Linked DNA regions of Homo sapiens: all the other regions are reported to be linked to region 1. Evidence: microRNA targets listed by miRTarBase, many of them from high-throughput screens and not tested one by one. Region 1 holds a microRNA gene; each other region holds the end of a gene's coding sequence.
What was found. The annotated mature microRNA hsa-miR-4643 reads GACACAUGACCAUAAAUGCUAA and lies in region 1 at 2,570-2,591, opposite strand. An mRNA with a match to its seed (bases 2 to 7 or 8) in the 3' UTR can be bound and repressed. Matches are read on the target gene's strand: a 7mer-m8 pairs with bases 2 to 8, a 7mer-A1 pairs with bases 2 to 7 and ends in A, and an 8mer does both.

Region 2: the mRNA of FGF5 is a reported target of hsa-miR-4643. Seed matches in the 3' UTR shown: 7mer-A1 at 1,597-1,603 and 7mer-m8 at 4,971-4,977.
Region 3: the mRNA of BAG4 is a reported target of hsa-miR-4643. Seed matches in the 3' UTR shown: 8mer at 1,471-1,478 and 7mer-A1 at 1,679-1,685.
Region 4: the mRNA of PNMA8A is a reported target of hsa-miR-4643. Seed matches in the 3' UTR shown: 7mer-m8 at 2,899-2,905 and 8mer at 2,858-2,865.
Region 5: the mRNA of FOXL1 is a reported target of hsa-miR-4643. Seed matches in the 3' UTR shown: 8mer at 3,369-3,376 and 7mer-A1 at 3,792-3,798.
Region 6: miRTarBase lists NDST1 as a target of hsa-miR-4643. Seed matches in the 3' UTR shown: 7mer-A1 at 1,969-1,975.

The regions. Positions count from the first base shown.
Region 1 is chr6:91,519,225-91,524,299 of GRCh38, reverse strand. MIR4643 (microRNA 4643) reads right to left here and starts at 2,640; the gene lies at 2,563-2,640.
Region 2 is chr4:80,285,770-80,290,844 of GRCh38, forward strand. FGF5 (fibroblast growth factor 5) reads left to right here. Exons shown (of 3, transcript NM_004464.4): 3 at 556-5,075. The coding sequence ends at 903. Among named protein-coding and RNA genes, the nearest start is that of FGF5, 22 kb to the left of the region's middle.
Region 3 is chr8:38,209,463-38,214,537 of GRCh38, forward strand. It overlaps BAG4 (BAG cochaperone 4), which reads left to right. Exons shown (of 5, transcript NM_004874.4): 5 at 546-3,839. The coding sequence ends at 1,031. Among named protein-coding and RNA genes, the nearest start is that of DDHD2, 20 kb to the right of the region's middle. RefSeq lists a silencer at 1,249-1,543.
Region 4 is chr19:46,464,459-46,469,533 of GRCh38, forward strand. It overlaps PNMA8A (PNMA family member 8A), which reads right to left. Exons shown (of 3, transcript NM_018215.4): 3 at 2,045-4,119. The coding sequence ends at 4,103. Among named protein-coding and RNA genes, the nearest start is that of PNMA8A, 4.6 kb to the right of the region's middle.
Region 5 is chr16:86,578,862-86,583,936 of GRCh38, forward strand. FOXL1 (forkhead box L1) reads left to right here. Exons shown (of 1, transcript NM_005250.3): 1 at 1-4,617. The coding sequence ends at 900. Among named protein-coding and RNA genes, the nearest start is that of FOXL1, 2.8 kb to the left of the region's middle. RefSeq lists an enhancer at 548-1,169.
Region 6 is chr5:150,552,392-150,557,466 of GRCh38, forward strand. It overlaps NDST1 (N-deacetylase and N-sulfotransferase 1), which reads left to right. Exons shown (of 15, transcript NM_001543.5): 15 at 822-5,075. The coding sequence ends at 941. Among named protein-coding and RNA genes, the nearest start is that of NDST1, 47 kb to the left of the region's middle. RefSeq lists an enhancer at 4,717-4,886.

The sequences.
Region 1 (5,075 bases):
AAGCAGTTGTCCTATCATATCAGCCACTCTTTTGGCAAAGAATTACTTTAATTTCTCATTGAATTTATGTGAATGCACTAAAGCAGACTCAGGTCTTGAGTGGCTCAGTTTGCTCATTCCCCACATTTACACACCTACAAATATACATATGTATCCTCCACATAATTATTTAATGCATATACGTCACATACACATGAACATATTTACACATATGTAATGCTTTAAAAATGTTACTGTATATTATAGGTGTTGATTTCATTCAAAGCACACGGACATTGTTAACACCTCATACACTATCCTAATTTAGGGAATCATTCTCAAAAGAGGCTGAAAAAATTCCAATTTGCAATACCATGTAAGCTCATATGGAAAGCCTTATCATTTTTTAATGAGTGGTGCCCTGACCTCTTCATTCAAGGTCAGATTGTGAAAATGTTAAAGTGAATCATAGGCATGAATATTCATTTGACACGCAGATACATACACACCAATCTTTGTTTTCGTATAAGTTACTGGTGTGGCACAGATTTCTCATTAAAAAAGAATTTTTGTGGTTAAAATCTGTTGCTAGCTTATCAAAGCACCTGTCTGCTTTTACAACACATATGGCATTCGATCCAGAATGCCACATGGGTATCAGTTTCTGGATAGACTTTAGCACTCTGAAATACACATCCAGGATCTGTCCCTCCTGAAATTAGATTACCAACTTGCAATTTGTTTTATCCATGTCCAAAAGGCTTTCATGCAGAGCTGAGGCTCTCTGGGCTGTGAGTGAACAATAGCTCTGTTCCCTCCTCATAGGGTGATTCTTCCTACACAACTTCAAGCTACTACCTTTGTCTTCTGTCACCTGAATTGCTGCAAGAGTGTTCTGATTGGTCTGCCAGAATCTAGTCTTGCCTCTTTCGAATATGTTTTTTACATCACAGTCAAATTTCATCATGTCTCTCTCTTGGTTAAAGCATTCAATGGCTTCCCAACGCTCTCAGGATAAAGTTCAAAATTATTAACCTCACAGAGGTACCCCCTTGTATTGTATCTCTTTAGCCTCTGCCTTGTGATCTCTTCTCCAGCCATAATGAGACACTTTCAGTTCCCAGAATTTGTTACATGTATCCTTGCTTCCAGGTTTCTGCACAGTCTATGGCTCCTGCCCATACTGTTAGTCTTCCTCCTCAACTACCTCTAGAGCTTCACTGGTTGAACTCAGTTTCTTCCCTTGAGGTGTCAGCATAGCCATGAGTCCCTCTAATGATCCTTCCCTGACACCTCCTCAACATTTTCTCAAGAGCTGTTGAGATGTTCCTATATGGTGCCATAGATTTTGTACTTCTATCCATACGTAGGTCTTGCTACTATAATTGCTGGTTTACTTGTTTGTCTCTCCCATAAGATTTTCTTATAAATTCCTTGACTGTGAGGAGTATATCTTATTAGCTATTATATCCCTAGCAGAATACCCAGCACTTAATAAATGCTAACAAATATTGTTTAATGAACAAAATAATTAAAGTTAGTTATGACACAAGTTATGTGTTTATGAGATGTGTTTATTAATTAAAATGCCAAACAAAAATTTCATTCCAAAGCTAGGAAATATGCCCTAATCAACAAATGAGAAATAGAGAAACTTAAAATCTTCATGATCTGTACTATTTATACAGACTTTTAAGTTCATTTTCATTTGAAATCTTTGATAATCAATTATACTAAAAAAGCAAGATAAATAAACAATAATCTAAAAACCTTCCTTTCTTCTTTCTATTTTAAGAAAAGAAAATATGGGGAAGTTACCCTTATTCCTAACCTTTGCTGCTGACTCCCCATCTAACTCACTTTACCTATCCTGATGTTATCACTTCATTTACTGTCCTGGTTACCTTCTGCTGCATAACAAATTACCCCAAATTTAATGGTATAAAAGTGACCATCATTTATTATTGTCATCTCTCATGATTCTGGGACTTGAGAAGGATAAGCTAGGTGATTGTTGCTCAGTGCCTCTCATGAGGTTTTAGTCAGATCCTGTGGCTGGAGTTGGTTTGATAGCATCATCATTCACATGTCTGGTGATGGGTCATGACTGGCTGTCAGCTAGAACTTTATGGGGAGCCTTTGGCCAGAACATTCCTGCATAGTCTTTGCATGTAGACTGGATTTCCTCACAGCATGGAGGCCAGGTTCTAAATATGAACCAGAACCTCAGCAGAAGTTGAGTGACATTTCCAAACTTAGTCTCAGAAGTCAGCAATCTTATTTACTCTGCATTTTAATCTTGAGAAAGAAGTTTGTAAGACCAGCCCATATTTAAAAGGAAGAGAATTGGAGTCTACTTCTTGAGGGGAGGAATATAAAAAACCTGTGGATACATTTAAAACCATAAAATTTACTTTCCCTCTAGGTTCCAAACATTCTTCTTTCTAGTTGGCATATTCCTTCTTCACTTGTCTCTCAGTACACATAAGCTTCCTCTGTGTTTAGTTGTCTATTCTCAATACACATTTGTGTGCATGTTTTTGTTTATACCTGTGAGGTGAGCTCAGTATGTTGTAGAAGTAAGTGTGCTTTAGCATTTATGGTCATGTGTCCACTTATGATCATGTGAATGAACACATGATTATAAATGCTAGGGCACACATACTTTAATGAGCACAATACAACGTAATGAACATGCTTGTGCTGAATCTGAAAGGATGAGCAGCTGTGTAAGTGACATTGGTGGAAAGGGCAGCCGTGTAGTCACATTGGTGGAAGTATGCAGACATTCCACTGTGACCTCCTAGTGGTCACAGCAAACTCCTCTTTCCTTTTCCCTATAAGAGTTACTATCCTTCACAGAAAAAAAATTAAAATATTTCTTTCTAGTTTGGGAACTTTAATTTTTTAAAATTGTGGCTTACATTTTCTGAATCAAGAGGGATAGTTTCTCTTAAAATACTCTTTCTGGGGTAATGAAATGTTTTGAAAATAGTGGTGATGGTAGTACGACATTGAGAATATGACAAATGCCACAGAACCATGCACTTAACAATGATTAAAATAGCAAATTAAATCATAATTTAAAAACTTTTTAAAATGTAACAATCTGAGAAGACTTTTTTTAAATAATAATGTTATAGACCAAAACCATTGAATTATATACTTTAAATGGGAAAGTTGTATGTTATGTGAATTATATCTTGATAAAGTTGTTTAAAAATGTTTATGGTAAAGACCTTTCACTTTCCACAATTATAGAGAATTATAGAGGGCTTTTACTTTCCACAATTATATACAGGCTTAACATAAAAAAGAATGAAGTCATGTCTTTTGTAGCAACATGGATGAGACTGGAGGCCATTATTCTAAAGGAATTAACATGGGAGCAGAAAACCAAATACTGCATGCCCTCACTTGTAAGTGGGAGCTAAACACTGGGTACACATGGACACAAAGAGGAACACAATAGACACCAGAGACTACTAGAGCGGAGAGAGAGGAAAAAACTCTTTGGATGGGTGTAGAATTAAAACAGGATGCTATGAATTGTGATCGTGTGATCCATCCCCCATTTGCTATGCCAAGAAGCTGAAGAGCTTTAACTGAGTCTCGCTGAAGGTAGGAGGTTGAATTGGACAACTTTTTTTAAATTTTTAAAATTTTTTAAAATTGTTATTTATTTAATCCTTTGAGCCCAACCTGAAATGAAAACAAATCATAACCAAAATTGGTAGTTTGACTGAAAAACTACCAGTTGGGTACTATGCTCACTATCTGGGTGGTGGGATCATTCACACCCCAAACTTCGGTGTCACACAATAGACCCATGTAACAAACCTGCATATATACCCCCTAAATTAAAAATGAAAGTTGAAATTATAAAAATAAATAAATACGAAGGGGCTTGAGTCATACTCTATTCAATATTAAAAGAAACAAAATTGGCTGGGCATGGTGGCTCACGCCTATAATCCCAGCACTTTGGGAGGCCGAGGTGGGTGGATCACCTGAGGTCAGGAGTTCAAGACCAGCCTCGCCAACAAGGAGAAACTTTGTCTCTACTAAAAACACAAAAATGAGCCAGGTGTGATGGCGCATGCCTGTAATCCCAGCTACTCAGGAGTCTGAGGCAGGAGAATCACTTGAATCCGGGAGGCGAAGGTTGCAGTGAGCCAAGATTGCGCCACTGCACTCCAGCCTGGGTGACAGAGCAAGACTCTGTCTAAAAAAAAAAAAAAAGAAAGAAAGAAAGAGAGAGAGCGAGACAAAAGAAAGAAAGAAAGAAAAAGAAAGAAAGAGAAAGAAAGAAAGAAAGAAAGAAAGAAAGAAGGAAAGAAAAAGAAAAGAAACAAAATAATTATATATGTATATATTTCAGACCAATATGCTTGAAAACAATGATATGGGGTTTTCTGGTTCTATAATGTGTACTTTATTGGCCCATCCTTAAGTACTTCATGTTACCTTTTAGCCTCCAGAGATGTGTTAGGTCTTTTGTGTTTTTGTTTGTTTGTGCTGTGAACAATTATCAGAAGCTCTCTAAGCCTGAATAATGGTTGCACTACGTCTATGCTCACACGAAATGACATACCCAAAGGACAGGGAACTGTTCTTAACTTAAACACAAGAAATCTATGTCAGGCAGTGAATAGTTACAGGTGACTTAAACAGAAATTATTTTCAATTCTGTATATAACCTTTTTCTCTGTTTCATTTCTAATAACTTCCATCATTAAAATTCTTGGCTCCCAAGTGAAAATGTGGGAGTGGAATCCATATATGGAAATATATATGTGGAACAAAAAGTAAAAAAATGAAAACATGTGGGTGTGGAACTTCTTTGATTATAATTTGTTTTCATTTCAGGTTGGGCTCAAAGGATTAAAAAAAAAAAGTTGCCCCATCCAACCTCCTACCTTCAGCGAGGCTCAGTAAAAACTTTTCAGCTTCCTGGCAAAGCAAATGGGTGATGGATCACACAATCATAATTCACAGTGTCCTGTTTTAATTCTACCCTCATCTAGTTCATCCCATCCCATTTTATCAAGTTCTTATTTGGTTTCTCCTTCAGCTAAAGTTCAGCTTGCTAGTGT
Region 2 (5,075 bases), not on the chromosome of region 1:
AACTCTAACACGTGCAATATTAATGGGGGCCATATGCTACTTCTCTCTCAGCAGCCTCAATCACACTGATAACATTGAAAAAATGCAAGCTTGTTTCAAAGGAATAATTTTGACCTCATTTCTGTGAACAGGAATTTATATTTTACCAGGCAATCATTTCTTAGTAATATAGTTCCATTTATTTTCTTAGTGAGTTAGGAGGAAAAACAGTATGTAAAAAGATTTGTAACTATACATTTCAAAGTATTTAAACAATAGTAACAGGGTTTAAATGTATCAAGAGTTCTGGTTACTTTTATAGTCATCGATATTATGTCACCAAGTAAGTAGGGAACAGAAATGTGTTACAAAGATAAATGAAGTAGAAATATAGAAAGAAAAATAGTAATTTTAAAGCAACTTTAAAATAAGCAAACATGTCTTTATAAAAAGGAATTGAGTAGGAGGAACAGAGATCAACAAAATTATTGTTTTTTTTTCTACAATACCTTATGTTTTATTACATGCTGAAAAGATCGCCACAACTTAAATTTCCTCTTTTTTTCTCCTCCTTAGGCCAAGTTCACAGATGACTGCAAGTTCAGGGAGCGTTTTCAAGAAAATAGCTATAATACCTATGCCTCAGCAATACATAGAACTGAAAAAACAGGGCGGGAGTGGTATGTGGCCCTGAATAAAAGAGGAAAAGCCAAACGAGGGTGCAGCCCCCGGGTTAAACCCCAGCATATCTCTACCCATTTTCTGCCAAGATTCAAGCAGTCGGAGCAGCCAGAACTTTCTTTCACGGTTACTGTTCCTGAAAAGAAAAAGCCACCTAGCCCTATCAAGCCAAAGATTCCCCTTTCTGCACCTCGGAAAAATACCAACTCAGTGAAATACAGACTCAAGTTTCGCTTTGGATAATATTCCTCTTGGCCTTGTGAGAAACCATTCTTTCCCCTCAGGAGTTTCTATAGGTGTCTTCAGAGTTCTGAAGAAAAATTACTGGACACAGCTTCAGCTATACTTACACTGTATTGAAGTCACGTCATTTGTTTCAATGTGACTGAAACAAAATGTTTTTTGATAGGAAGGAAACTGGAATTCTTTGTACTAATACAGGGAGCACACTCCTTCAGTTCAGCAAGACATAAAGCCTTTTGCTTTATGCTTGAGGGATATTTAGAACTTTGTATTTTCGGAAAGTTAAATAACAGGGACTACGTATTTTTCTGACTTTTACAGATTAACCTGAAAGAACATACATGATACATTTTTATTTTTGGTTTCCAAAGAATATTTTGATGCAGATAAAATATTTTGTTAACTTTTGTTTTTTTTTGTTTGTTTTCTTAAAAGTACCTCTGCATTGAGCATATTTTCTTACTTTTATTATTTTAATTAATATGACATAAGCAATCATTTTATGCTGTTTATGAATTATAAATGTGTTTATAGCTCATTTGTAATATGGAAATCTTTTACATTTTTCCTATTCACTGCACTTTTTTATTGTTTTTATTTCTAGCCATACCTCAGATAATATGTTTAGTTTTACATTTTAAAATGTTTAAATTCTCTTTCACAGCACCAAAGGCTCAGCTTGGATTTGTGTGTATGTGTATGTCAATTCATGACATTATGTGGAATCCTAAACCTTTGGTGGCTGGGATATGATGGGTTAGAAGCAAGGAGAAAATATAAGGACTTTTTGATGGAATTAAATGTGGGAGGTAAGGAAAAGGATTTAGAGGTAAAAGTACACTAAGTTTGCAACATTTATTGAGATCTAAGTCTGTCTTGCCTTCATTTCTCTTTTTATCTCCCCCTTGCCCTCATTCTTGAACAGCTGGAGGAATACATTTTATTCTGTCCATGAAGCATACACTATGAAATTCAAGTGCTTAAAAATACTTCTATGACTCTCTGCTATCCCACTGTATAGATCCACAGGGAGCAAACACTTAGAAATGATAGAGAACTGAAGGAGATCAATGGTTTAACAGTTATCCATGCCAAGTCCCATTGTCAGAAATATTCTTATTACTCAGTCAAACACTCTTTGAGCTTCCCTTCCTAAAGGTAACCAATCCAGTGAATAGATGTGCCCTTTTATAAGGAAACTTCTGATGTTTATTAAAAAAACTGGCCTTTTGATAGAGGTAACTTAATTTGGGAATTTGTTGTGTTGAAATGGCATTTAATTTCAACCTAAATACTGACTGCTGGACATAAATCACAGAAAATTTAACTTAAGAAAATTTACAAAATTTATTCTCAGGTAATCATTTTAATAAAGTTCTGCAAAATACACGTTTATCTTACATTCAGAAATGTGGCAAAAAAGGCATAGCTAAAGGCTAAACATATGGCTTTAGTAGTAACAAAAGGGTTCATAGAAACTTCATGGTTTGCATTTAAACATGTTTAAAGTGTACTTATAAACTATTTTTTTCTTAAAGCAAACTATGATTTATTTTGGTGCACAAATACAAAGTGGAAACTTACCAAAATTGAACTAGCTACCATATAAGCAGATTGCTTTAATTTGATGGGAAAATAGTACACACATATATATAACAAATAATATATTAAAAAACCCATCCATCAACTAAAACATTATATGTATACATCAGTATAGTGTTTTATTATAAAGCCAATTATCTGATTAAGCATTCTTTCCACTGAATGCATAATGTTTAAATAGCATAAAATGAAATGCTACAAAAATTGAACTAATTTATACTTTAAAGTATTTCTGGGTTAAATGAAACAATGAAATTTTTTAGTATGTTCAACTCTCATCCAAATGGCATATGACCCTGTTTACACAGCCTAAAGCTAAAAATATTACTCTAGTTTATTCTAATCTATTGTTAAGTATTGTGCACTGTATACCAAGTTCTTAGGGCACATGAAAAATTTTAGCTGCCAAACAGGAACTAGTAAACATATGTTCCTAATAAGTGAAGGGAAAGATAATAATGATGGTCAACAATAAGCCACGTCAATGCATAAGTTGTATAGGCTAAATGTTGCTTGTAGGCTACATTAAACTCAAATGTAATAGTTTATCTTATACTCCTGGTTTGATTTGATTAGCATATTAACGTGAAAGTAGGATAGCTACTAAATATATATTATGCAAGTCAGGAATCATTAATTTCAAAATTTAAAGCCATGCTAAAATTAAAAAGAAAATATTAAATTACACAATTACACTTGTCTTTACTGGCCATACAAAATGATTTTTTTTTTTTTTTTGAGACAGAGTCTTGCTCTGTCACCAGGCTGGAGTGCAGTGGCATGATCTCGGCTCACTGCAACCTCCAACTCCCTGGTTTAAGGGATTCTCCTGCCTCAGCCTCCCAAGTAGCTGGGATTACAGACTCATGCCACCACGCCAGCTAATTTTTGTATTTTTAGTAGAGACGGGGTTTCACCATGTTGGTCAGGATGGTCTCAATCCTGGCCTCTTGATAGTCCTGACCTCATGATCTGCCCACCTCGGCCTCCCCAAAGTGCTGGGATTACAGGTACAATGATGTATAATTAATGCTTAGTGAAGCATAAAGTTACCTACATCAATTAATTAAATGAACTTATGTACAGAAAACATGTATAAATATAAGTCTATACTAATGCTTACAACTTTCTAAGAGGGTTCTTGCTTATGTAGCTTTTTATTATTTTAAGTAACTAGAACCACCAAATATCAAATAAAATTATTTGGTTATGGTTATGTTCATCTAAACACAACAATAACTTTTATATTAATATTTAGGAGTCTATTTTGTCTATAGGTGACAAACATCTCCAGACTAACATGTCAGTTTTATCAATTATATTATGTTTAATTATTTAAGATTTCTTTATGTGGAACATCTATAGAGATAAATAGAAATTTTCAATAAGATGTAGTAACACTGTGATTTATCTTTCAAGAGTCTCTCTTCACTTCCTTCTAAAGAGACTAATTTGAGAGTACAGGTGCATATTAATTTTCTTGGTTCTTTCAGCTGAATTATATTGGTCCAGAAGTTCAAAATCATGTGACAATAATAAGGGATACTGACAGAAGTTATTTCCAAGTTTGTGTATATATTATAAAAATTACATATATAAAACTAAGGCTTTTATTTCTGTTATTTTTAAGCTTTTATTTCTTGTAGCTAAAAATAAAACATCATAAATCTGGTAGGTAAATTTCTTATTAAATCAATCTTGAAATAGAAAATGTAATAACTTTCTTACCATTAACATTTTTTACCCTTCCATAGAAGGGAGGGAATAAATCATGACTTATCCCATTTTCAATAACAAAACGAAACTATGGCACTAACCAAAAACTTGCATTCTGGCATAATTTTTACAGTTGCAGAGAATTGTTTCTGGGCTCATTAAAAAAAGTAGTATTGCAGACATTGCTGCAATGGGAAGCAGACAATAACTTCTTAAAGGAATTCTACACCTCCTTTAAGATTTACTTAATTGCTACATCTAAATTCTGATAATTTAAAATCCATTTTAGGTGATAAAATTTTTTAAAAGTTTTGAAGGAAACCTCTGGATAAATGGACAAGGCCTAATTTTTTTTTGTAGTCAATCCAACTGTACTGGCCAATTTTTGAAATAAGATTATATGATTAGGTATTAGCAGAGACAAAGAGTTACCTCCTCCATCTTACTCTGCCCTATTTGAAAGTCTCAGGGGAGAAAAGGGAACAAGATGCTGATCCAACCTGAGTGGAGTCAGGTGAGGCATCTTTACATCTAAGAATTTTTTTTTAAATTTTATTATTATTATACTTCAAGTTCTAGGGTACATGTCCACAATGCACATGTCTGTCACACATGCACACATGTGCCATGCTGGTGTGCTGCACCCACCAACCTGTCATCCAGCATTAGGTATATCTCCTAATGCTATCCCTCCCCTCTCCACCCACCCCACAGCAGGCCCCGGTATGTGATGTTCCCCTTCGTGTGTCCATGTGTTCTTATTGTTCAATTCCCACCTATGAGTGAGAATATGTGGTGTTTGGTTTTTGGTCCTTGCAATAGTTTGCTGAGAATGATGGTTTCCAGCTTCATCC
Region 3 (5,075 bases), not on the chromosome of region 1:
ATTCACATCGTTTTTGTTAAAAGACAGAAAGATACACATTTTCTGTTTGTTGTAATTCTTCTAAACGTTAAATGCAAAGATGCATTTTACTACTTCAAATAATCTATGAACAGAAGACAAAACCAATGTGAAATATCTGTAGCATGAGCTTGTATTTAAACCACAGACTTGAACATTATCACTTGTGGCTGTGTTCCTTTTCAAGACCTTGCTTGAGGTTTTTAACCTTTTAGGGGAAAAACTAATTCTTATTAATTAGGTCACAGGATGGACTATGAGGTGCTCATGGTGATGGACCTGCCACAGGGCAGGTTCCAGCCATTATAACTCAAAAATTCTGTGCCTTTTGTCTGACAGGGCACTCCCTTTTATCTTCTTAGGACTGTGTTTTTTTGCAAATGATTAAGGAGAGGGGTCCAATTTTATTGTTAGGGAATCTTTTCATGTACCTTTCTGGTCAAGTGAAAGATGTGGGCTAACAAATTTGATGTTGATGCATTCCCATTAAAACAGCTCTTTTCCTCTTTTTGCTCTCCCACTCCAAGGATTCTTCATACCCCTATAGCCAATCAGATCAAAGCATGAACCGGCACAACTTTCCTTGCAGTGTCCATCAGTACGAATCCTCGGGGACAGTGAACAATGATGATTCAGATCTTTTGGATTCCCAAGTCCAGTATAGTGCTGAGCCTCAGCTGTATGGTAATGCCACCAGTGACCATCCCAACAATCAAGATCAAAGTAGCAGTCTTCCTGAAGAATGTGTACCTTCAGATGAAAGTACTCCTCCGAGTATTAAAAAAATCATACATGTGCTGGAGAAGGTCCAGTATCTTGAACAAGAAGTAGAAGAATTTGTAGGAAAAAAGACAGACAAAGCATACTGGCTTCTGGAAGAAATGCTAACCAAGGAACTTTTGGAACTGGATTCAGTTGAAACTGGGGGCCAGGACTCTGTACGGCAGGCCAGAAAAGAGGCTGTTTGTAAGATTCAGGCCATACTGGAAAAATTAGAAAAAAAAGGATTATGAAAGGATTTAGAACAAAGTGGAAGCCTGTTACTAACTTGACCAAAGAACACTTGATTTGGTTAATTACCCTCTTTTTGAAATGCCTGTTGATGACAAGAAGCAATACATTCCAGCTTTCCTTTGATTTTATACTTGAAAAACTGGCAAAGGAATGGAAGAATATTTTAGTCATGAGTTGTTTTCAGTTTTCAGACGAATGAATGTAATAGGAAACTATGGAGTTACCAATATTGCCAAGTAGACTCACTCCTTAAAAAATTTATGGATATCTACAAGCTGCTTCTTACCAGCAGGAGGGAAACACACTTCACACAACAGGCTTATCAGAAACCTACCAGATGAAACTGGATATAATCTGAGACAAACAGGATGTGTTTTTTTAAACATCTGGATATCTTGTCACATTTTTGTACATTGTGACTGCTTTCAACATATACTTCATGTGTAATTATAGCTTAGACTTTAGCCTTCTTGGACTTCTGTTTTGTTTTGTTATTTGCAGTTTACAAATATAGTATTATTCTCTACTTCTTGGTACATTTTGTAGTAATATGTTTAATATAATTATTCAAGAGACTATATTGACAGCCAGATAGTATGGCAGTTCTGAAAAAATTTATATCTTTTCACCACTTGAATATACTGCAATGTGTAGTGAGTAAATTGTCTCCCTTTTTCTATAGATCATTAGGTTAGAGTTTTTTTCTTCTTTTTTTTTTTTTTTTTTTTTTACCACTTCTGCTGTTCATGGTAGTAGTGGAAGGTAAATTTGGAAATGGCATTGACATAAAATGAAAATGTTTACGGACACTTTTCTTTTTTGCTTTTTTATTGTATTTGGATAAAGATCCACTTAAAAGTTATCTGTTTTTTCCTGTTTTTTTTTTTTTTCCCCAAAGTGTAGTTATGTTTTCACTATTGCTGCTTCTATAGAGGGCATTGTGATAGAGAGTTACAGATGAAACATTAAATGCCACAGTGAGTAGAAATAATTACTACAAAAAGTAATAAATATGATTACTTGGTAATATCATTCTCCATCTAAAATACTAGTTTCACCTGTGAGCAGATTTCAGCTCAGTTTATAGTTAAAAACAATGAGGGTAAAATGGGATTCATGCTCAGGGAATGAATCAGCCATAGTTAGAGTGGGAAATTATTATTTTCTTCATTTAAAGGTAGATTTTATGTTTATTTCCCTAAATTGCATAAGATAAAATTGTCTGTTTAATAAAAAGACATTTATTACCATTATTAACAGTCATTTTAGAGCCAAATTTAAGAAAAGGATATTGAAAGGGTCTTTATTGGCCTTGTTTGGGTAACTCTATGCTGTTAGATAGAAGAGACTTAGGTAAATAACTTTTTATGTCTGAGGTGAGTACACAATATTGGTTCTTGGAAAAATAGCTGTTTCTTCATAAGATACCCAAGTGATAATTTTTTTTCCCCTAGACTGTCAGGCCTATGAGTAAATACTAAATCTATTAGCTGTCCCCACTCATAAACCAAACCAAACCAATACAAACAGATGAGGAGAGGAAATGTAGTAAAAATACTGGCTGGGTCTTATGATTGGGATGAGTGATTTTATAAGATAATATGGTGATAATTTTATTCTAGGATTTTATTTTTGGCCTAATATAGGAATGTTTAAAAAAGGCTTTTCTATGAAAATTAGAAATTTATACTTGAAATTAAAAGTCTAGAAGGGGGAGGACCTTAAAGCTAAGCTACCAGTAAGACAATGAATAATTCAGAAGAGAACACTATTCTTTTACTGACTGAGTGCCCAAGATGCCAATTTCCATGAAGTCTTGATTTATATATATGTACACATGTTATGCACATACATGTTTGTTTTCTAACAGTTATTTTTTAAGCTTTTGAGATAATTTTAGACTTACAGAAGAGTTGTAAAAGTAGTAGAGTTCTTGTATACTCTGCACCCACCTTGCCCTTATGTTAACATCTTACGTAACAATAGAACATTTGTCAAAATTAAGAAATTAACCTTGATATAATACTAACTAAAGTAGAAAGTTTAAAAAGTAGAGATTTTAGTCTTTTCACTAATGTCCTTTTACTGTTCCAAGACCCAGCCTTGCATTTAGCTATCATGCCTACGTCCTGTCTTCCAGTCTGTGACAGTGTATCATAACAGGGGATACCTGATGTTGTAATGTATTTCTGGTGTTGTTAACCTTGATCACTATGCTAAGGTGGTGTCTGCTAGGATTCGCTACTGTAAACTTACTGTGTTTTCCTTGTAATTATTGAATATTTGCTGGAGATACCCGGAGACTATGCAAATGTCCCGTTTCTGCTTAAACTTTTGCTCATTTTACTATCCATTGGCAGATCTTGCTTGTGGCAGTTACTACTGTGGTGTTCTAATGGTGATTTTCTATTTCTCTCAATCCTTCTACATTTATTATTGGAATTCTTCTGTAAGGAAGAGTTGTCAGTTCTGGATTTATATTTTTAACTATAATAAGATATTCAGGATAAGTATAGATTTAGAACTTAAAGATGTTAAATCATGTTAAAATTATTCCAAATACCAATATCAAAGAAAACTAAGTTGGTAATCTATCTCAGAAAATATATGAACTTAAGAAGGAAAATAGTATTTATGATTTGTAGAATTGGTTCAACTTTTGACTTAATACTGACTTTGGACTGAATTCAAAGTTTTCTTGAAATTTCACATCTGGACTTTTTAAAGTGTCTACATTTATATTACTTTGGGGATCATTTTGTCAAAGTCTTGAATAAAGTTACCCAGTCCTGGCATGATAAACACAACTATGTTTTTTTTTTTTTATAATAACCCTCTGTTGTTCCAAGTATGAATGCCAATGAAACTGTTTAAACAAATAAGCCCTAATGAAGTATACAGGGGTTGGATTATATGTGTCTCCACATGTTGGTGCAGAATTCTTTTAAATGCTTTTAAAAATGGGGTTCTGAAAACAGTTTTTCAGTTGGTTAATGTAAATAATACCATTAAAGCTAGGCAGGTTAAAAAAATTTTGAAGAATGTAGATTAAATAGGCATAAAAAAGTTTTTGGGGGATGGATAGTTGATGGAGCTTTTCTTTTACAACTTTACTTTTTTTTACTTATTTTTTTAAAAAAGTAAGGAGTTTACCTCAATTCGTAGAAGTTACGAGTTTAAAAAGTCAGTTCTATGAAAGGCAGCATTCTCCTGATCCCACCCCCATTTCTCCTTCTCTAAAGGCAACCACTTTCAACTGAGTTTTTCTTTTGTTAATCAAAAAATTTTGTTTTTAGAGACAAGAGTCTTGCTATGCTGGTCTTAAATTCCTGGGCTCAAGTGATCCTTCTGCCTCAGCCTCCTGGGTAGCTGCGACTACAGGCATGGACCACCTCAACCAGCTTCAACTGAGTTTTTATGTTTTTTTTGAGACGGAGTCTTGCTCTGTCGCCCAGGTGGGAGTGCAATGGCGCGATCTCGGCTCACTGCAACCTCCACTTCCCAGGTTCAAGCCATTCTCCTGCCTCAGCCTCCTGAGTAGCTGGGATTGCAGACATGTACCACCACGTCCAGCTAATTTTTGTATTTTTAGTAGAGGCGGGGTTTCACCATGTTGGCCAGGCTGGTCTCGAACTCCTGACCTCAGGTGATCTGCCCACCTTGGCCTCCCAAAGTGCTGGAATTACAGGTGTGAGCCACTGTGCCTGGCCAGGTTTCCAGGTTTCTCTCTCTCTCTCTTTCTCTCTCTCTCTCTCTCTCTCTCTCTCTCTCTCTCTCTATATATATATATATATGTTTTCTTTACTTTTTTTTTTTTTGAGACAGAGTCTTGCTCTGTCACCCAGGATGGAGTGCAGTGGCATGATCTCGGCTCACTACTGCCTGAAATTCCTGGGCCCAAGGGATCCTCCCGCCTCAGCCTCCCCAGTAGCTGGGAGGCATGCATTATGGCACCTGGCTAATTTTGTAATTTTTTGTAGAGATGGAGTCTTGCCATGTTACCCAAGCTAGTCTCAAATGCCTGGCTGGGCTCAAGTGATCCT
Region 4 (5,075 bases), not on the chromosome of region 1:
GTATTTTTAGTAGAGATGGGGTTTCACCATGTTGGCCAGGCTGGTCTTGAACTCCTGACCTCAGGTGATCTGCCCGCCTTGGCCTCCCAAAGTGCTGGGATTACAGGTGTGAGCCACTGCGCCCAGCCTTACTCACTTTCTGAAACAGATTAGAGCCTCCCTCCACGATGACTGTTCCCTCTGCCCAGGAGGCCGTTCTTGGCCAACTGCTTGTCTCACCCCTCACCCCCTTCAGGTCTGTTCAGACATCCAGTTCCCAGAGAGGCTCCCCCAACCATTGTAAGCGACAGCCAGCCGTTTCTGCACACTCACCTTGCCTGCCTATCTTCCTGTTATATTTTTCACGGCAGAGCTCCCCACCCCTCCACCTGTGTCTATATAAGGTCTGTCCTCACTCAAACGTCAGGCTCCAGGAAGCCAGGACTCTGTCTTGCTCCTGGCTGTCGTACAGCAGATTCTCAACGAACCTTGCTTGAATGGCAGCATGGGCAACCAGGACACTTTGCCCTCGAGCCCTGCTGGTGGCATCCACAGCTCTCCATCTTCCTGCAAACACTCCGGGCCAGCGCCTCCCCAGACGCACCCCTGAACAGAACACCTCCACCCGGGGCGATGAGGTTTCTTTGAAGAGAGCTTTCATGTGCCCCAACCTTGGATTCCCCCCATTTTTAGGGCACGTAGGCCTTTCATACTTTACTGACAGCCTGGGTGTAACCAGTAGGAGTGACTATTATTGTGGGAGGTACTTAAACATCTTGGTCAAATAGGGCTTTTCCCATTGTGGGGGTGTGGGGGCACCCAATAAATAGAGCTTCATCCAGATGCTTCTATGAGTACACGGCAGTTCCTAACGAGCTCCGCGTCCTCAAATCCCAGCTTCCCTTTTGGTCTCTTTCGCATCTTTCCTCATAATCTCCATTCACTTTCACAAAACCTCAACCTGGACCCCTAAGGACACTTCCGTTTCCCCAAGTCTGAATTATTCCACCTGAAGCTCTCCAACCTGTATTATTAATAGAATTCTTGGCTGGGCGTGGTGGCTCACGCCTGTCATCCCAGCACTTTGGGAGGCTGAGGTGGGCGGATCACGAGGTCAAGAGATCAGAGATCGAGGCCATCCTGGCCAACATGGTGAAACTCCATCTCTACTAAAAAAAATACAAAAATATTAGCTGGGCGTGGTGGCGCACCCCTGTAGTCCCAGCTACTTGGGAGGCTGAGGCAGGAGAATCGCTTGAACCCGGGAGGCAGAGGTTGCAGTGAGCTGAGATCATGATACTGCACTCCAGCCTAGGAGACAGAGCGAGACTCCGTCTCAAAAAAAAAAAAAAAAAATTCTCAGGAGAAACTGTTTAAGACGCAGATAACTATGTACAACCCCGAAGAGATCCTGAATCAGCAGGTAGAGCCACGAAATGGTACCTTGAACAGATTCCAAGTGACTGATGTAGTGGCCACCCTGGTTCAGGAGTTCCTGGGGAGGGGCAGGGGAGGGCCAGAAGAAAACTATATTTTTAGCTAAAAGACCTCAGCTTCTGGCTTGGCATGGTGGCTTACACCTGTAATCCCAACGCTTTGGGAGGCCGAGGTGGGCAGATCACTTGAGCCCAGGAGGTAGAGGCTGCAGTGGGCTGAGACTGTGCCACTGCACTCCCACCTGGGTGACAGAGCGAAACTCCATCTCAAAAAAAAAAAAAAAAAAAGACCTTGGCTTCTGTGTGAGGGAATAGGAAGGGAGGGAAAGGTTTTCATTTTCCAGCTGTTTATAAAAAAATAAACTGGTACTTTGAGGTAATTTGCGTCACCAGATACCTATTCTAGAAACCCCAAGATCTGTGGGACATCCTTCCACATCAGTGGAAAGCCATTCGCAAAGAGGACAAACGGCTTCTTCTCTCATGGATCATTAACAATTCTCAAAGCTTGAACCCGTATCTGATAACCAGTCACATCTGGCTGGGGGCACTGTTTGAGGAAAGGGGAACCCTTTCCTCAAATTTAATAGTCCATGCAATCCTCACCTACAAGAGACTTAACAGGACACTTAATTTGCTAAACTTTATTTTATACATACACGTTTACATTTACTAGTCATGGTGTCAACTTGTTAACACAACGAAGCCCTAATGGACCCGTTTTGAAATTAGAAGCTGGACAGTTACAGGCTTTGGTCTCTTCAAGAATCCAATTCACCCCTGGGTTTCGCTTGGCACACACCCCAGGAGAACGTCGATGCACACAGCTGTGTAGCTGCAAACGGAAACCACTCTCTTTTCTCTCGTATTTTTCAGTCAGACTCACTCAGGATTTTGAAATGAATCATCACGAGAAATTTGTTTTAAAGTTGAATCACTGAGAACATCTAACAACTGTTCACATTCTTTATCACAAAAACTGAAGTCGGAAAAGACGCCCTGAAAACTTGCAAGGGCTAATACTCTATGATAGAATATTACTACTGTTCACCATGTTAATACATTTACTTACTACCATACACCTGAACAGTCACGGCAGAACAAGAGCATGTGAATGACGAAAGGAAACTTGCTTTCAGGGTGTCAGATTATAGAACATGCACAGGAATTTCTTCCACTTCTAACCTCGCTCATCAGTCACATTTACAAGAAACTCAATTTTAAGCAAAGAGATGCCTGAAATAACTAAGACGTGTACAAAAACAAGTTAACCTATGAACACAAGGTAATATTCTGATAGTCTTCGATGTGACTTCCAACATATCTGAGTAGTCACTTTTCAGTTTTTTAAACACGTGAGAAAAATAGATTTGGATTACATCTTTGTGGACGGCTACGATACAGTTTGGAAACCATTATCTCAGGGACCCTGCTCTCTCCTCTACACATGCGCACGCAAACACACACACACACACACACAATGACACATGGTGGTCTGGTCTAATATAGTGTGTCTGAATTCAGAGGGCAGACATTAACAGCCAAGTTTTGTTTTTTTGAGAGAGAGTCTCACTCTGCTGCCCAGGCTGGAGTGCCGTGGCACAATCTCGGCTCATTGCAACCTCTGCCTCCTGGATTCAAGCAATTCATCTGCCTCAGCCTCCTGAGTAGCTGGGATTACAGGCGCGCGCCACCACGCCCAGCTAATTTTTGTAGAGATGGGGTTTCACCATGTTGGTCAAGCTGGTCTTAAACGCCTGACCTCGTGATCGACCTGCCTCAGCCTCCCAAAGTGCTGGGATTACAGGCGTGAGCCACCGTGCCCGGCCAACAGCCAAGTTTTAAAAGATTTTTTTCCCCTCTTACTATAATGTGAGTAGTGACCTTCTGCTGCAAAGATGGTGACAGTTTGGTGCAAAGATGGTGACAGTTGGGTAGATGGATGGAATTAGAGCTGGGGACCTAGGAATGCCTGCGTCCTTCCCTATAATCACCCCCCTTCCCCACAGGATTCCTGAGAGGGCTCATCCCAAATGGGAATCAAAGTGCCATTTTTACTAACAGACTCTAAAACTCAAAGACTTTGAGGTCTAGGCAGACATTCTTTTTCCCTAAAACTAACTCTTGGGACCTCCTGGCTAGATAACTGGAGGATGGAAGCTGGAGACTGAAGGAGCAATAAAACCAGGTTTGCAGCGAAGGTCCTGGCTTAACTTACCCCGCTGGTTACACGAGAGGAAGGCGGGAGGAAGAATATGGCAGGGCCACCCAGCTCTTCCAAATGCCAGGGCCTGCAGAGGTCGCTGACCATTCCGAGGAGGGAGCAAGGCGTGGGGGAGAAAAGCTGAACATGGATGAGTGTAACAGTGACCCTGCTCATGCATAAAGGGGAATGAATGTTCTAGAATTTTCCCAATCCTCTTACCAACTCTCCTGCCTCCGAAGAGAAGGTGAGTAGAGAAGGCGGTGAAACGGCAGGCCTGGTAGAGAAAAGGGCATAGAGATCCACCTCCCTTCCCCAACTCCCTCCCACCCAAGACCTCACCTATCGTTTACCTCAGGGCCAGATCTCTATCAACAGGGGCCCTAAGAGAGTCCAAAGTCTTATTCAGTGACAAGAGAGAACTTGGTTGACTTGGTACTTCTTCCTTGTTCTTTCAACTCCTCAGTATGGGTGGTCCCCCAGATCAAACCTTTCTGGATTCTGCAAATAAATGAGAGAACAGATCAAGAAGGGAAGCAGAGAGGTGTCATTAGGAAATGCATTACTTCCAAGAAATTTCTGGGTCCCTGAACATTTCTATTCCCCAGCCAGGTCTCTAGAAAACTTCACCCTTAAAGCCACATACCCTGCAAACACCATAACTCCAAAGTATTAATATTTTTTTTGGGGGGAGGGGGGAACAGGGTTTCACTCTATCGCCCAGGCTGGAGTGCAGCAGTGTGATCTTGGCTCCCTGCAACCTCCACCTCCCAGGTTCAGGGAGGGTAAGAGCCCAGACCGCCCTTCCAGGAGCCCCTGAAGGCCGATGCTGGAGACATCTGGTGGGCAGATGTCTGGAGGCCAATCCCAGGCCTTGGCCTCCCCAGTAGCTGGGATTACAGGCACAAACCACCATGCCCAGCTAATTTTTGTATTTTTAGTAGAGATGGGGTTTCACCATGTTGGCCAGGCTGGTCTCGAACTCCTGACCTCAGGTGATCTGTCTGCCTTGGCCTCCCAAATCATTAAATTCTTTTTTTTTTTTTTGGAGACAAGAGTCTCACTCTCGTCACCCAGGCTGGAGGGCAGTGGCACAATCTAGGCTCACTGCAACCTCCACCTCCCGGGTTCAAGAGATTCTCCTGCCTCAGCCTCCCGAGTAGCTGGGATTACAGGTATGTGGCACCACACCCGGCTAATTTTTTGTATTTTTAGTAGAGACGGGGTTTCACCATGTTGGCCAGGCTGGTCTTGAACTCCTGACCTCAGGCGATCTGCCCACCTTGGCTTCCCAAAGTGCTGGGATTACAGGCATGAGCCACCAAGCCTGGGCCCAAACCATTAAATTCTCATCAAGGAAGATGGGTCAGATGGAGTGGCAAATGACCACAGTGACACTCATTGTGGGTTTCCTCTGCCACCTCCTGCCCACCAGATGTCTCCAGCATCGGCCTTCA
Region 5 (5,075 bases), not on the chromosome of region 1:
CCGCAGAAGCCTCCCTACAGCTACATCGCGCTCATCGCCATGGCGATCCAGGACGCGCCCGAGCAGAGGGTCACGCTCAACGGCATCTACCAGTTCATCATGGACCGCTTCCCCTTCTACCACGACAACCGGCAGGGCTGGCAGAACAGCATCCGCCACAACCTCTCGCTCAACGACTGCTTCGTCAAGGTGCCCCGCGAGAAAGGGCGGCCGGGCAAGGGCAGCTACTGGACGCTGGACCCCCGCTGCCTGGACATGTTTGAGAACGGCAACTACCGGCGCCGGAAGAGGAAGCCCAAGCCGGGCCCCGGGGCCCCGGAGGCCAAGAGGCCCCGCGCCGAGACGCACCAGCGCAGCGCGGAGGCGCAGCCGGAGGCGGGGAGCGGGGCAGGGGGCTCGGGCCCCGCAATCTCCCGCCTGCAGGCAGCGCCCGCGGGCCCCTCGCCCCTCCTGGACGGCCCCTCTCCGCCGGCGCCCCTCCACTGGCCGGGGACCGCGTCCCCGAACGAGGACGCTGGTGACGCTGCCCAGGGCGCAGCGGCCGTGGCGGTCGGCCAGGCAGCGCGCACAGGGGACGGCCCGGGGTCCCCTCTGCGCCCCGCCTCCCGCAGCTCTCCGAAGAGCTCCGACAAGTCCAAGAGCTTCAGCATAGACAGCATCCTGGCGGGAAAGCAGGGCCAGAAGCCGCCTTCAGGGGACGAACTCCTAGGGGGTGCCAAGCCTGGGCCCGGCGGCCGTCTGGGTGCCTCGCTCCTGGCCGCCTCCTCCAGCCTCCGTCCGCCTTTCAACGCTTCCCTGATGCTCGACCCGCATGTCCAGGGCGGCTTTTACCAGCTCGGGATCCCCTTCCTCTCTTATTTCCCCCTGCAGGTTCCCGACACGGTACTCCACTTCCAGTAAAGCAAACAATGGCACGGTTCTTCTCCCGGCCCAGCCTGAGCCTCCGCTGAGCGAAAGGCCACAGCTCCCACCGGCGGAGGATTTTAAAATGATCTTTGCCTGGGTCGGCCTGTGGGTTCAGGGAAGTGTTACCAACCATTGCGCGCAGGTGGGCGCGCTCGCCTGCCTTCTCCGAAGCAAACTTTTCCCAGCAACTGGGAGCAGCTACGGAGACTTAAAAGATCCCCGCGGGGTCGTGGGCACCGCACGTGGGCCCTGCAGGGACCTCCACCGCGGGAGATTCCTTGACGTTTGACCTGTCTAATGGAGTGTGGTCTTCAGCCGCCCACCGCAGGTCCTGCGAGTCCCGGGCATGCAAGGGCCCGCAGACCACCCAAGGCAGGCCTTACAGGTGCAGTTGAGGTCCTTTCGACCGGGGACCCCCGTATGACCGTCGCCTGCTTCGCTGTTGCCGTGTGGCTCAGGCCTTGGTTTTGAGCCCATCTGGGTGGTGGGTGGTCACAGCTGGGTTTGTTCCTGACTTGAAGTTGTGGAGGTGCCGGGGGTGACCCCGGGTTTTCAGGTTTTCTGAGAGATGTAGGGCCCGATGAGGATTTATGACCAATGTTCAGCTATAGAAGCTGATAACCACCCAGAGCAATAACACTTTTATTTTAAACAGAGACTTTTTCTCTTAATTTCTTTCTGGGTAGTAAAAAGAACATGTTTCATTCTTTGCATAAATACTTGACTCTAAGCATTGACCTTTGAAAACGCTTGTATTAACAATTTTTATTAAGAAAGTGCACTCTATATAACATCTTCTTGCATTACGATAGCTCATTAGCCAATACACATGCAGCTATGTAAGCCACAACAGCAGACGTCCTATCCTTTTGCTTTTGTTTTTAAGGGATCAAAATATTTCAAGGGATACCATGAGGAAGGGTGTGAGGGGAAGGGGATATGCCTTGGACAATGTCAGAGTTTTGATTTCCATGTTTTTTCAAGATCCAGGCTTGGTGGTCGCTATATTTTTCAGAAACAGATAATGAAAGACTACATTTAATTTAAAAAGTTGGGTGAAACAACCAAAAGCAGATGCAGAGAGAGAGAGGGATGAATGCGGGGGAAGAATAAGGGGACGTGCTGGTGTCCGCTGGAAGGGGCCTCTCTGGGCCCCAGAGGACCTGAGGTTTGATGGCAGGAATCTCCCAGACACTCCTGGCCCCCGCACCCCCTGCAGCCGCCCGCTCTTCCCTCCCAGCCCTGCCAGGCAGGCCTGGAGGCTGATACTAAATCAAAACCTTAAAGAGGTGACTGGCAGTCTGGGGAGGGGAGAAGAGGTCTGCAACGAAAATCTAATTAAGAACATTGAGATGTTCACAACCAAGTTCAGCTTGCAGCTTCCGGGGAAATGCAACCGACCTCTATGCCATCTCTAGCTGGGTAATCTTCGAGGCCCTGAAATGCAATTTTCTGAACCTCTAAGTCACTTTTATTTTATGTCATGTGATAAAGACACAAGTAGTCACGCACTATTGGAAATAGGTTGGGAGGGAGGTCTTTAAGATCGCTTTTAAAATAGTTTCCAGGACTTGTCTAAAAATGATGACAAACTTTGAATCCAGAGGGCCTGTTGGTCAATGTGTTGGAAAGGACATTTCAGGCCGGCAGAGTAATTGGATAATTCACAGGCATAGAGGTGACTTTTGGAAAATTCATTCTCCTATCCATGCTGAACCAGGCTTCCACGACTGGGTTCTACCCAGGCCAGTGGGAAGACTCTGGGAAACTTCAGGCCAGCCTTGATTGGAAGAACTTCCAGGAGGAGCCATTGCTGAGATCCAGGCTCACTGTGATTCACTGAAAATGTAGCGAAAGGGCTGTCACTGGATATTTTGCTATCCCAAACTCTCAGCCTCTGTGAATAAAGTTGTTTTTTCATTAACCTCTCAGTGACTGGTTCAGTGGATTACTGGAGGGAAATAAACAAACAGTGTAATAAGAAAGAGGAGACTGGGATTATATCTGGGAGTCGTGTTAGCATCTCAGGAGGCTCTGGCTTCTGAGGGGTAAACACACAGATGGAGGGGAAGGAGTGGAGAGGATGCCGGGCCCAGGAAGCTGCCTCCATATCAGAAAGCACGATGAGTTAATTCTGCCGTATTGAATCGGTTTTTAATCTTTCCTTTTTCTTTTTTGTGTTTGTATGTTATCTTGGGAGGTTTTGTTAATTTGTGATGGCTATGTTTTGAAGAAGCAAATAATTTGATACTGCAGTTTTAAAAGGGTCGTATTTTAAAGTTACTATTCCAAAAAGTATTGTACGAATGTTACTTTTATGACACAGAAAAAATGCAGATGTATCCACTTTGTGTGTTTATACATGCATAAAGAGAAATTCTATTTAATCCCAACTTTTGTCTGGTTTAGAAAAGCTAAGACAAGTGGATACTGAGGTCGTTTTTATGTAATCTATATAATTGCATGTGTATTCCTTCCTCCTGAACCAAAAAGAGGAGGTTTGGGTCTTACCAATCCGAATAGCTGTTCTATTGATCCATATTTAATCGTTGGCTCAAAATTATGGCTCAATAAGGTCAATAGTTTCTGCTCTTAATTAAAACAAAATCTCAGCTATAATTAGGGTGAGCCAGAAGCAAGCTTATCATTGTACTCTTAGGCAATCTGAAGGAATACCTCTCTGCTCTCATCTAAACAAAGGGAACAGATCTGTCTTCTGTAAATGATCTTTGGTTCAAGCCCTGATTACACACACACACAAACAAATACCCACACACATATGAGTGCACTGATCATAATGAGGATATGGCAGGCACATGTTTGATAACAAAGTGTGTATACATATGTACACGTTTATATATATGTATATACATATATATACATGAATGTGTAGGGGTGTGTGTGTGTATTTGTTCTGTGTACATGAATGCTCATAAATGTATCTTTTTTGAATATACCTGAGACTCAGATCAAGTACTGAGTCCTTTCACTTTAACCCAAGTATTGATACTATTTGAAAGATTTTGTTTTTCTATATAGTTTTTAAAAATAGATAATAATTTCTATATAGCTTTAATAGTTTTGTTTCTCTATGTAGTATGAACCAGGGATAACTTTATTGTTCTGTGTTAGTATAGTGAAACTGACAGATTTTATTTAAACATCGCGGAAGACACCCGCTTTGAGAACTTTTCCCTCCGTTCACAAGGACAGAGAACTTTACAAAGGACTCTTGCTCTGCCTGGCCTCATCTAGTTGCTGGCTTTTCTAGAAACAAACGGCCTCCTGGGCCTCCAGTGAACCATAAGAGTTTTGAGAACCTGAATAGGACCTTCTTAGCCATTTTCAGATTTAATTGTGCCCGTTTGAATGGTGGTCTTCACCATTTCACTCAAAGTGGTGAGTGTATGCCCGTGTGTATGTTAAAGAATTAGCCACATATAATTATTGTTACAGCTGAAAGCCAGAGCCAGCCTGCCCAGACCCTGGCAGGTTAATGTTAACATCACAAAGGTAGGTGACGTTTCCAGTAACCAGCTGCACCCAGGAGTGAGAAAATAAGGGGAGAGCCATGATTTTGTGCACTTCCTGGCTTCATGGTGGATGGAGTCTTGTTTCCATGAAATAAAGGTTGTTTCATAGAATGAAAAACATAAATGATAAAAAGCAAAGTTTGTCCATTAAAAATAAAAAGCGTGAGTTTGTGGAAAAGTAAGATTCTTTTGACTCACATTTAAAGCAGTTTTTTAAATACACCTGAATAGCCACATGACAAGCTCTCTCCTCTGCTGGTCCTTATCCAGAGGCCCCAGTGCTGAGTTCTTCAGGGCTAGGCAGGGGCCACAGGTGTTTACAGTGACCTGGAGTGGGGCCTGATCACTGGAGCGGGCAGTGGTGGGGCTTGGGCTGAATTGGGGTGAGGGAAGTTCTGTCCCTTCAGATGGCATCCAAATGCCAATTGCACTAGGCAAATCAAATGTGTGGCTTATAGGCCAGATGTAGAGTCAAGCTCAGGCTCTCCACCTTGGGGTGCAAATGAAATCTGGGGGGGTCACAGTCAACTCAGGTATCTTTACAGTAGCAGTGGGGGTGGAGGGAAGCAATGGAACAAAGATTTGGTCCCAACCTGTTTTTTCCATTAGGTACAAGAATCAGCGTCCTGGCAGGAA
Region 6 (5,075 bases), not on the chromosome of region 1:
GAAAAAAGAAATTTTAAAAATATATAGAAAAAGGGTCACAGACTGGGGGTCTTGTTACTTCCTCCTTTTCCTACTTGCTTCTGTTTTTGTTTTGTTTTGTTTTGTTTTGTTTTTGAGACAGGGTCTCGTTCTGTTGCCTAGGCTGGAGTGCAGTGGCATGATCATGGCTCACAGTAGCCTCGACCCCCTGGGCTCAATCGATCTTCCCGCCTCAGCCTGCCATAGTGCTGGTATTATAGGTGTGAACCACCGTGCCTGGCCCTGGCCCTGCCCGCCTTGGGTTTTGATTATTAATTCTCTCTCCTCTCCCTATCAGAAGAATTTTGACTTAGTGAGCTATATTTTGATGCTCCTGCCAACTGGGAGTTCACTATTGGAGGCTACCATTTAGAAGGAGATTGTGGATAAATAAGAGGTGTATGGGGGGTGGTGCCAGCAGCATGGTGGGTTTTTTGTTTTTTTGTTTTCTTTTGAGACGGAGTTTCGCTTTTGTCACCCAGGCTGGAGTGCAATCGCGTGATCTTGGCTCACTGCAACCTCCGCTTTCCGGGTTCAAAAGATTCTCTTGCCTCAGACTCCCGAGTAGCTGGGATTACTGGCGCCCACCACCTCACCCCGCTAATTTTTGTATTTTTAGTAGGGTTTTCCCATGTTGGCCAGGCTGGTCTTGAACTCCTGACCTCAGGTGATCCACATGCCTCGGCCTCCCAAAGTGCTGGGATTACAGGCATGAGCCACCGTGCCCGGCCGAGCATGGCGATTTTTAGAGGAGGTCACTCTTAAGTCAGTACACAAGGTCTGAGCTTTCCTTCCCGTTACAGTCCCGAGCCTTCCTGAAGGACTATTACCGGGACCACAACATCGAGCTCTCCAAGCTGCTGTATAAGATGGGCCAGACACTTCCCACTTGGCTACGAGAGGACCTCCAGAACACCAGGTAGCCGTGGCCACCACAGCCAGACTGAACGTTTGTGAAAGCTGGGACATCCCACCACACGCTGAGCCAGACCTGCAGAGTGGGAAGCTGGACCAGGGCAGCTGCGCACTTATGAGCAATACTCTGTGGAGGTCTGGTGGGGCTGGGGGAGCACCCAGGCGGATCTGCAAGCACCTCGGAGCACCCACCGCTGGGTCTGCGGCCTAAGGGACCTCCCTCGCCAGCAGAGGTCCATTCCGTTCCCAGCTGCTCCTGGGGAGGCCGCTTCCTGGTAGGAGGGAGTCCACGAGACTCTTTTCTGTCCCTCACTGTGTTCCGCCGACTGTCCCCTCTCGTCACCCATCACTCCCTGCTTCCGCAGGGCGCCCCTCAGTATTCGCTGCCATATGTCCCTGTCCTCCAGGCTGTAGGGGAGGAGAGCCTGGCCGGGGGAGACAGACTGGACATTTCCCTGTTTCGAGCCAGGCTCTTCCAAGGGGCCAGCTGGGTCCCCGGAGTCAGTCCTAGGCTGGATGGGAGGGTGGCCCCCTCAAGAGGACTCCCAGCCTCCACATCTGGTTCCTACCTTCACATCTCACCCTCCCGTTCTGGGGAAGAATTTCTGGTTCCTACAGTATCCACTCCATCCTCAAGGCTTCCCGCAGGGCCTTGGGGCACTGCCTTGCCATCGGGCCCAGTTCTCCGGGCCCCACCTGCACCCCTTTCTTCCCCCTGGGATATGATGTGTGGTGTTTCCTGTGGTAAAAGACTGAGGCAGGCCAGGGGTCTGCCAGTAACATGTTCCCATGTACAGACACGGTCCCCACACCCTCCCAGCCTCAGGCCCAGGCAGACATGGGCGAGCTGGTGAGACTGCCAGCCACGGCTTTGCTTAGCCACCTGTGGCCGAGGGCTCTCAGAGACCCCCTTAACCTCCCAAATACTAAGAAGCTAAAATATTTTAATATTTTGTTTTTTTTTTTCTTGGTGCCAGAGTTTATACCCTGGGTGCTGGGGTCGCACTGTGTTATATATATATATATATATATATAATGTGTATATATATATATTCTATTTTTTTTGGTTGGGTTCGTTTTTAATTCAGTCCTACAAAATGGTGGTAAGCCCCAGTCTCAGGGGTCACCCTGTCTTAGAGCTAGAGATGAGGTGGCAGGGAGGGAGGCTGTGTCCTCAGTGGCCTGGGGCTGAGCAGACCTTAGGAAGGGGCCCTCCCCAGTGCCGTGGCTGCTCTGGGGCTACCCCAGGTGAACAGAGGTGGTGAGATGCGCAGGGAAGACCAGCTCTCTCCAGGACATCGGGCTGCGTGAAGTCCAGTGACCCTGAGGGGATTTTGGCCAAAGGAAACAGCCAGGGCTGGGCTAGGAGAGCTGGGGTCAAAAGCTGCCCCACCCACTCTCCCTCACATGGTGCTAGGCTGGGAGCTGCCCTGAGAGCTGGGATGCCCACCAAGGCCCACAGAACTGTCTCCAGGCCCTTGTAGACAGTGGGATCTCTGGGCTGATTTCTGGTTGGGGTCTGCTCCTACCCCACCCCATTTAACAATGTGAAGTGACTGAGGCTGGGGTGCCTCTCCCTGGCCCCCTCCAACTGCCAAATTCTGCTTCCCTCTGAACCCCAGGAAATACTTTCTGGAGAGGCTTGTCTTGTTCAGAAGACTCTAGCATCTTGGGGCTGGAAGGTCCTTTGACGGGTATGAAACAGGTCCAGAAAGGGGAGGTGGCCTGCTTGGCCGACGTCATGGAGCCAGCTGGGAGCAGGGCTGAGCGTTGAACCCGAGGCTCCCGGTTCCAAGTCCCATCGTGCTCCTCTTCCAATGCCACACTGCCTCTGAGCCCATCCTTGGGACCCTACTCTGTGCCAGGTTCCTGTCCCTTCCTCCGTCACAGCATGGTCATTCCAGGATATGGGGACAAACCACTCCTTCCCAGCCAGGGTGCCTTTGAGCCTTCTCATTCCGAGGTCTGCGTTTGCATCCCTGTCGTGTTCTCCCTCGAGGGGTCCTTCCCCAGCCTGTGGGGGCCTGGGTCTGTTCTGAGCTGATTCCCTTTTCTCCAGTTCTCTGCTGGGATGAAGAAAGTTGGACACTCAGTGGGACCAGCTGCAGGTGGTTTCACTGTGTACACAGCAGTGTCCCCATCATGCCTCTCAATGGGGCCTGCAAGCCTGGGAACTTGGGCATCGTTGGGCCAGCAGGATGAGCAGCAAAGGGTCTGAGGACAGGGTGGCATGTCTGCTTGTGTGCTCATGAAGACATGCCCACGCCATGGAGCCAGGGGCTTATAGAGAGGGGCAGTGACTTCCAGAGTCCCATCCGTCAGTGAGGGGACTGGGCTGCGGGATGGGTGAGGATCTTACAGCTCCCAGGTTCGGAAATCTACCCTCTAGGCCTGGAGGCCTCTCTCGCAGAGCATGGAAGGCAGGAGAGGTGGGCTGGCCTAGGGCAGGAGCTCCACTTCTCTCTGCCTCTGGCTATGGGAAGGAGCAGGCGGTTGGAAATCCTGTGACAGCAGAGATCTTCTGGATTTTTGCCTGGACCCTTCTGCAAGCCTGGAGACTGGACCTGCCACATGTTCCAAGTCTGTCTGCCTAGGTCACTGCTGCCACTTCTCCTCCCACTAACAGACCTTTCTTGAAGACCCACTAGGTCCAGACACTGCCGGGACTTGCAGGTATGGGGGGTAGAAGGAGAGGCAGATAAGCTGCCTGGGGGGCTGTTAGCTAATGGGTACAAGGACACCCCCTCCCGAGAAGAGAAGCCACAGATGAGTGGGCCAGCGAGGCCAGTCTTCAATGTCCACTAATTCACTCTAAGCATTTGGCCAAAAAAAGGAGAGAGAAATAACTGAAATTGTTCAGGTGGCTCCATCGTCTATTCTGTGGTCCCCTCCATGAGCCTTTGCCCCAGGGTGGGTGCAGGTGCGAGTGTCACCTGCAGCTGCCTCAGTCATTCAGAGTTCCAGAGCCTTCTGTGGTGGAGCATCCTGCTGCTTGGAGGATGAGTCTGAAGTTTAAAAATGGGCCTTTTCTGAGCCCCCCTGATGAGCAGTCAGTGCTTCTGGGCCCAGCTAAGGAAGCCATCTGTTCCCAGCAGAGGAGAGCTGCTGCGCTGACCTGCAGAGGTTGGTGGTCCCAGCACAGAGCTGTGCCCATGGGCTTGTTAGTGGGAAAAGCAAATACAACAATGTTTTACCAAACATTTAATTATGAATGCCCACTCCCCAGCATCTAGATCTAAAATTATTAACATTTTGCCACATTCTTTTTCTCTCTCTGTGTATGTATATGTTTTCTCTGTCCTAATTTAAAAGTACATTGCAAACATCATGAAACTTGATCCCTGAAAGCTTCAGCCTGCATCTCCTAAGAGTTAGGGCATTGTCCTACACATTGGCCCAGTATCACAGCCAAGACGAGAAGTCATTTCCCAGCGATGTCTGCTATCTAATCTGTATTCAAATCCCCCCAATTGTCTCCCAGGTAACTTATGTGTCTGGTTTTGGAATCAGCATCCAGTCACGGTGCACACATTGCATTTTCTAACTATGTTTTTAAAACCTCTTTGAATGCTGAAAGGTCTTCCCTCAGCTCACTTTGAGTTTTTAAATGACATTGTTTTTGAGGCCCTAGGCCTGCTGTCTTTTTGAAGCCCCACATTCTGAATTTGTCAGATTGTTTGCTCATGGTGTCGCATAACCACTTCTTCTATCCCCTGTACTTTCAAGGATAATTTAGGCTACATGAGATTTTGCCTTTTGTGCTGACTTGACAGCTTCACTTCTGCCTAAGATGCGCCTCCACTGTCACCTGTACCAAGTGCCAAAACAGCAGAGGGGCCAGTTAGAGCAAGAGCTCTGGGGGGGCCGGAAAGTCTCCCTGGAGAAGGCCGTAATATCTGGGCCTTGGAAGGAAGGACACAGGGCTCTGGAAGGAGGAGGCTGCATGCCTGAAGGCTGGGCCTTCGACCCTGGGGATGGGCCACAGGGCACCAAACACATCATATGTCTCTCTCTTTCTATTTTGGGGTCCCAGGGTTTTCATTTCCTGGAGACCCGTGGTCTGTGTGCACTGGAGCAGAGCCAGGCTCTCAGTTGCAGCAGGGAAAAGCCTACATGGGGAACTGCCTCCCGCAAGCTGTGGT